Homo sapiens: one gene and its partner. The protein of the gene in region 1 purifies or fractionates together with the protein of each later gene. This does not show direct contact. Each region holds a gene or a part of one and is shown in the gene's direction. Other genes may lie near its edges.

The links. Proteins that work in one complex are often made in the same cells at the same time.
Region 2: the proteins of SAXO5 (region 1) and UBR3 purify together in Homo sapiens (affinity purification with mass spectrometry; 2 studies listed by BioGRID and IntAct, with this or other methods). This does not show direct contact.

What each region holds. Positions count from the first base shown.
Region 1 is NC_000019.10:7,495,992-7,499,745, forward strand, and holds the start of SAXO5 (stabilizer of axonemal microtubules 5), read left to right. Parts: upstream 1-1,556; 5' UTR 1,557-1,691; intron 1,692-3,754.
Region 2 is NC_000002.12:169,924,902-169,928,555, forward strand, and holds part of UBR3 (E3 ubiquitin-protein ligase UBR3), read left to right. Parts: intron 1-717; coding exon 718-846; intron 847-1,790; coding exon 1,791-1,843; intron 1,844-1,936; coding exon 1,937-2,070; intron 2,071-2,418; coding exon 2,419-2,504; intron 2,505-3,654. UniProt on the Homo sapiens protein: E3 ubiquitin-protein ligase which is a component of the N-end rule pathway. Does not bind to proteins bearing specific N-terminal residues that are destabilizing according to the N-end rule, leading to their ubiquitination and subsequent degradation.

The sequences.
Region 1 (3,754 bases):
GGGAATACAGGTGCCCGCCACCACACCCGGCTATTTTTTATATTTTTAGTAGAGACAGGGTTTCACCATGTTGGCCAGGCTGGCCTCGAACTCCTGACCAAAGGAGATCCGCCTGCCTCAGCCTCCTGAGTAGCGGGGATTACAGGCGTGAGCCACCACGCCCGGCTAATTTTTGTATTTTCAGTAGAGACAGGGTTTCACCGTGTTCGCCAGGCTGGTCTCAAACTCCTGACCTCAAGTGATCCACCCACCTTGGCCTCCCAAAGTGCTGGGATTACAGGCGTGAGCCACCACACCAAGCCACAACAGCCCTTTTCTGGACGCTACTTTGGGAGGCTGAGATTACAAATGTGAGCCACCATGCCTCACCTGTGTGTTGTTTTTATTTGTTTTTATCTGCTCATCTCAAAAAAGAAAGTAAAATTTCCAACCAATAAATTCATCCCACCCAAATCCCCTACTTCCTTAAGCTGTGCCCCCAAAACACCGAGCAGAATTGCAAATCCCATAATAAGTGCTTTCTGGCCGGGCGTGGTGGCTCACGCCTATAATCCCAGCACTTCGGGAGACTGAAGCGAGCGGATCACCCGAGGTCGGCAATTCGAAACCAGCCTGACCAACATGGAAAAACCCCATCTCTACTAAAAATACAAAATTAGCTGGGTGTGGTGGCACATGCCTATAATCCCAGCTACTCGGGAGCCTGAGGCAGGAGAATCACTTGAAGCCGGAGGTTGCGATGAGCTGAGATCGTGCCACTGCACCCCAGCCTGGGCAACAAGAGCGAAACTCCATCTCAAATAAATAAATAAATAAATAAATAGCGAAAAAAAGTTCTTTCTAACACCTCCCTACTGAGACCGCCATAGTGCCCTATGACATGTATGAGCTCTCTCTCCCTCTCTCTTTCTTTCTCTCTCTCTCTCTGATGAATAATAAGCTTGAATGTGTTCAATCACAGGTACATTCCTGGTGGTCTTTGACTGGGGAAGGAGGGGTGACCGGCCCCTTTAAAGGGAGATCTGTGAGCCCTAGAATAATATCAAGAGGTGCAGTGATTCAGGGAAGTGGGTCCATTCTGTGTGGGGTGTGTAGAAGGTAGAGGGACAGAAAAACTTTAGAGGATGATAATAATAATGGACACCAGCAGCCTATTTAATCAAATCCTCAATACTGACACTGCTTTCTGAACTGGCTACCATCATTAGTCCCCTTTTGCAGATGACAAAACCTAAGTCCTAGCCAGGCATGGTGGCACACACCTGTGGACCCACCCACTTGGGAGGCTGAGGCGAGAGGATCGCTTGAGCCCAGGACTTCAAGTCCAGCCTGGGCAACATAGCGAGAGCTTACCTCAAAAACAAAACCAACCGAACAAAACCCCAGAGGCTCCAAAAAGTCAATTACTTGCCTGGGTTCCTGGAGCTCTAAGGAGGCAGTATTCGCACCAAGCCTGCCTGCTAATTTTCCTCCCGGCTGCCCCTAGAGGTGCTGAGTGGTCATTGTGACAGTATCATTACACAAAGGAAGCTCTTGGGGTCACAATGCGCAGGGCTGGACCACCCTTGGATGCAGCCTGGGAAGGAACATGAGGATCCTCTGAGAGACCAGGGACAGAGGGAGACCCAAAGATCTGGTCTGTAGCTAAGTGAATTTTCTAAAACTCATTGATTCACACGCCATCCCTTGAGGTAGGTGCACTGTCCTCGTCCCTGATGTACAGAGGTGAAAACTGAGGCTCATGGGAGCTTAATGACTTATTCCAAGATTACCTGGCTAGTAGTCTCAGTTGTTGGATTCTCTGATGACCCATTTTGGAGGTCATATTCAACTCTCAACTATTGCAGGGGGCAAATGATTCAAAAAGCAGCAAACTCAGCCAGGCGCGGTGGCTCATGCCTGTAATCCCAGCATTTTGGGAGGCCGAGGAGGGTGGATCACCTGAGGCTAGGAGTTCGAGACCAGGCTGGCCAACATGGCGAAACCCCGTCTCTACTAAAAATACAAAAATTGGCCGGGCGTGGTGGCGGACACCTACAGTCCCAGCTACTCTGGAGGCTGAGGTGGGAGAATCGCTTGAATCCAGGAGGAAGAGGTTGCAGTGAGCTGAGAAAAAAAAAAAAGCAACAAACTTACACACTGAAAAACTGTGGTTTCATTAAAACACACACACACACATACACACACACACACACACACACACACACACCCTTCATCCATGTTTTCTTTCTATTTTTGTGATGGGGTTTCGCTCTGTCACCCAGGCTGGAGTGCGGTAGCGTGGTCTCGGATCACTGCAACCTCTGCCACCCAGGTTCAAGCGGTTCTCCCGCCTCAGCCTTCTGAGTAGCTGGGATGACAGGTGCATACTACCATGCCCAGCTAATTTTTGTATTTTTTTCTTTTTTTTTTTTTTTTTTTTGAGACAGAGTTTCGCTCTTGTTGCCCAGGCTGGAGTGCAATGGCGCAATCTTGGCTCACCACGACTTCTGCCTCCTGGGTTCAAGCTATTCTCCTGCCTCAGCCTCTGGAGTAGCTGGGATTACAGGCATGCGCCACCACGCCTGACTAATTTTGTATTTTTAGTAGAGATGGGGTTTCTCCATGTTGGTCAGGCTGGTCTTGAACTCCGACCTCAGGAGATCTGCCCACCTCGGCCTCCCAAAGTGCTGGGATTATAGGCCTGAGCCACTGCACCCGTCTGATCCATGTTTTCTAAATAGGTAGAGGTAAGCAGGTTTTGTGGGTTGAAGTGATCTGGGAGGTCTTCCTGCAAGAGGTGAGCCTGAGAACTTGGAATGCTGGTCTCCAAGGGAGACAGAGAGGAGAGCATGGGAGACACTTGTGATCTAAGCAAAGGCAAGAAAGTCCCAGGTGACTGAGCAGAGGCGGAGGGTCAGGGGAGGCTTGGAGTCTGAAGCTGAAGGTCAGAGGAGAGAGCTAACTCTCAGAAGGTGTGAAGACAGGAAGAGATTGAGAATAGGCAGGACCTAGGACAACTGCAGAGCAGGGGAAAACCAGTAAGAAAGTGCGTGGCAGGCCGGGCACAGTGGCTCACACCTGTCATCCCAGCACTTTGGGAGGCCAAGGCAGACAGATCACTTGAGGTCAGGAGTTCGAGACCAGCCTGACCAATGTGGTGAAACCCCGTCTCTACCAAAAATACAAAACTTAGACGGGCATGGTGGCAGGTACCTGTTATCCCAGCTACTTGGGAGGCTGAGGCAGGAGAGTCAGTTGAATCCAGGAGGTGGAGGTTGCAGTGAGCTGAGATCGTGCCACTGTACTCCAGCCTGGGGGACAGAGTGAGACTCTGTCACAAAAAGAAAAGGAAAGAAAGAAAGAGAGAGAAGGTAGGGAAGTGAAAGGAGCGGAGGGGAGGGGGGAGGGGCGGGGGAGGGGGAGAGAAGGGAGAAAAAGTGTGGCAGAAACGGAGATGGCCAGTGGCTGGGGTGCAGGGCTGGAGTTAGGCAGAGGAACAAAAATGGGTCCCCCAGAGGGGAAGAAGGAGAAAACCGTGGCCTTGACAACTGACTGAGGGTGAGAAGACGCGGTTCTTGTATCAGACATACAGTAGAATGCAGTGGTTAATTCTCCAAGTTCTAGAATCAGAGTCGCCCTGGGTTCAAATCTCAAGCAAATGACCACCTCCCTGAGCCTCAATGTCTTTTGTGAAGCAGTGGTTAAAACCTACCCTTGGCCAGGCATGGTGGCTAACACCTGTAATCCCAGCACTTTGGGAGGCTGAGGCAGA
Region 2 (3,654 bases), on another chromosome or scaffold:
GTGCACCTGTAGTCCCAGCTACTCGGGAGGCTGAGGCAAGAAGAATTGCTTGAACCTGGGAGACAGAGGTTGCAGTGGGCCAAGATCGCGCCACTGCACTCCAGTCTGGCGACAGAGTGAGATTCTGTTTCAAAAAAAACAAAAAAAATGATGACTGCCTAGTTTTAGTTGACACTGGACATAAATACATGAAGAATTAAATACTGATGTAGTGAGAACATTTATTCTAACCTCCAATATTTGGAAAATTAGCAGTATAGATTTAAGATTGAGTTAGGGTGAATTAAAGATGTAGAATGTATTCATTGACTTTGAACAGTTGGTTTTATTTTATGCTTATTCTAGTGTCTTTCTTTAAACATGTATATTAGGATTGTTGTTGTTGTTACTTAGGGTTTTCTTGAGGGAGAAATAGAGTGAAACATAAGCATTGATTTCTTATGAAAGATGTCAGTGAAAATCATCATAAATGTATCCAGAGGCCAACATGGAAAACCAACTCATTTGTTTAAACTCTAAAAAAGTGGCTATGTAAAAACATAATTATTGTTAAAAAAAATGTAAAAATGTATATTTCAACTGATTATCTTTAACATTGGACAGAATATCGGGCTTATACTATGATCACATCATTAAATATTTTGAAATGGTTATTTATAATATTTTGTAAAGATTGCATTTAGATAATTTATTCTTTGTCCAATTTACTTTTATTAGGCAAGTCTTGCAGAAATCCACAGCAATATGTGGGTAAGAAATGGTCTGCAAATCAAAGGACAAGCCATGACGTATGTCCAGTCTCATTTCTGTAATTCCATGATTGATCCTGACATTTACCTGTTACAGGTAAGCCAGCTAGATAATGCAGATATACTTTAGAAGTGTCTCATTTGTACCCAAGGGATTTTAATTTATAGAGGTGACTGCGTGATGACATGGAGAGGCCAATGCCATTGAAAGAATAATTTTTTACTTACATTTCCCAGGAGAAGAGGCATACCACCCAACACAAGGCTACAAGGAAAGCACCAGATTTTGGTCAAGAGGCAGAAAGGAGTGAGGGGAGAGCCTAGGCCAGAGCCTTTATTGGGGTTTCTGCAGGAAAGGCAAGGAAAGGCAAGGCAGGATTGGCTAATTTGAATAATTCCAGCAGGCTTTGAGGCATAGGGGCTGTATCTGGCTCTGCGGTACCTGGCCCTGGGTTGATTTAGGGGAGGGGAAATACTGGGTTGATGTGTGAGAGTTAGATAAAGACAGTGGTTGGCTTGCATGACAGGCATTTTCCCAAGTAAGTTGTTTAGTATGTTCAGGAATTAACTGGCTCTGGGAGGGACTATCTGTCTTCAGGTCTGTAATGCCCCTCAAGATGTCAAAACATCATAATATACAGAAAATAAAAATCATAGCCAGGCGTGGTGGCTCATGCCTGTTATCCCAGCACTCTGGGAGGCCAAGGCAGGCAGATCACTTGAGGCCAGGAGTTTGAGACCAGCCTGGCCAACACGTCGAAACCCTGTCTCTACTAAAAATACAAAAATTAGGCAGGTGTGGTGGCACACACCTGTAAATCCCAGCTACTCGGGAGACTGGGGGATGAGAATTGCTTGAGCCTGGGAGGCAGAGGTGGAGGTTGCAGTGAGCTGAGGTTGCACCAGCTTGGGTGAGAGTGAGACTCTGTCTCAAAAACAAAAAACAAAAAACAAAAAACAAAAAAAAGTATAGAAAAACATGATTAATAGAAGAAGGAAAACTGAATATTGAGAAATAAAGCATTTTGTTTTCTTTTAAAGGTTTGTGCTTCTAGACTTGACCCAGATTATTTTATTTCATCCGTCTTTGAAAGGTAGGCATAATTTTATTAAGACAGGTATTAGGAAGTGTCCAGTTAATTTTGTTTTAATTTATAAAAATATGTTTCAAATATTTCTTCTTGTAGATTTAAGGTAGTGGATTTGTTGACAATGGCATCACAACATCAAAATACAGTACTTGATGCAGAGCATGAGAGGTCGATGTTAGAAGGCGCTCTTACATTTCTTGTGATTCTTTTGAGTCTTCGTTTACATTTAGGTAAAACTCACTGATACTAATACTTATGCATTAACTGTTTTCCTCCCTTTCTCCCCCTCCCTGTGGTAGTAACTGGCTTAGGGAAAAAAGGAAAGGATGTAGATAAATGTAAACAATGTTTCAAACTCTTGATATGTTGTACTGTAGGTATACCTTTTAGAATATCCTTTGCTTAAGGGAACTGCAAACAGCAGTTAAACTGCAGTTATGTTTGGAGCATAGCTTCTTTACTCTTTAATTTGAAGCATCTTATATTTGGTAAAACAGCTTAGTAAAAAGTGTGGTAAGTTTTTTTCTTTATAATTTATGTATACTCAGATTTGTTAATTCCGTTTTTAATAATTTTAGGAATGTCTGATGATGAGATTCTCAGGGCCGAGATGGTAGCCCAGCTGTGTATGAATGACAGGACACACAGTTCATTGCTGGACCTCATATCCTTTTAAAATTTTACTTTCTGTTAGTTGCAGGATCTAAAATAAGTATTTTTTATGATTAATAGTTTATCAATTTTTTGATTAATTTTTTTTCAAAGTTGAAAAATAATATAGAAAAAGAAGAACACCAGTTGTGTGCTCAAGTATGTATTCAAGCCTGGTGACTGTTTTTTTTTTTTTTTAACCTCCTGTTATTACCTCTTGGGGAACTCTTCTTAGACTTTAGGGTAGATTTCAGGACTGAATGATGGCTTTGGCCACCCCAGCATTTAACCTCCTAGTGGACAGCATTACTGAACGTTTTATAAAAGGCAGCTAGGTCCATTTTGTCTGTGTAGCCAGGATGCAATTCATGGTTAACAGTTAAAGGTATACCTTACGATTATTATTACCAGGATTTTAAACATTTTGAGGGTTTTTCTGTAGAATTTGGTCTTAAAGGATTTTTGAATTTATAGATTTTTGTGTACAAACAGGGAACCTGTGGTTCTTTGTATAGGACTGAACATACAATGAGAATCTGATTATCTTTTTAAGTTAATGTTAATAAAATTTTACACAAAGATTATCAAGTAATTTTGTGATAAAAATTCTGGCCGAATTTAGTATTTGTATATCTTATGACTATGTTTGGAAGAATTGGCTAAACTTTTTATTTTGTGAAATAAGTCCTATTAGAATGCCTGTTTGACAACCTTGATTTTTGTAAGCAGCCTCAATTTGATACTGTCTGATGATTTCCTTCAGTCATTATGAACTATGTGTCAGTGCTATTATAGAGTAAAAACGATCTCTGTGTCTTTCAATTTTAAAGATTTATGTGCTTTAATGTGAGGAGAGAATCTTTTTGGTTTGCCTCTTTGCTTATATTTGCTTAGTATTTTTTTCTTTGGGGATGAAATTTTGTGTTTTTGGAAAAACAATCTTTGCTCATAAAAATCTTGGCTAATTTTTCACAAGTTCTTTCTGTTTTTTAAGGAAAAGTTATTTACAAAATGGTAAAAATGAAGACACATTTTTAAAAGTTTTTCTATCGTTTTCTGAAATTTGATAAATTTATTTCGGGGAAAATATACCTGGGAACTACTGCAGCATACAATTTATTAGTAGGCTCCTAGATTAAACATATTTTCAAAAATCACAATTA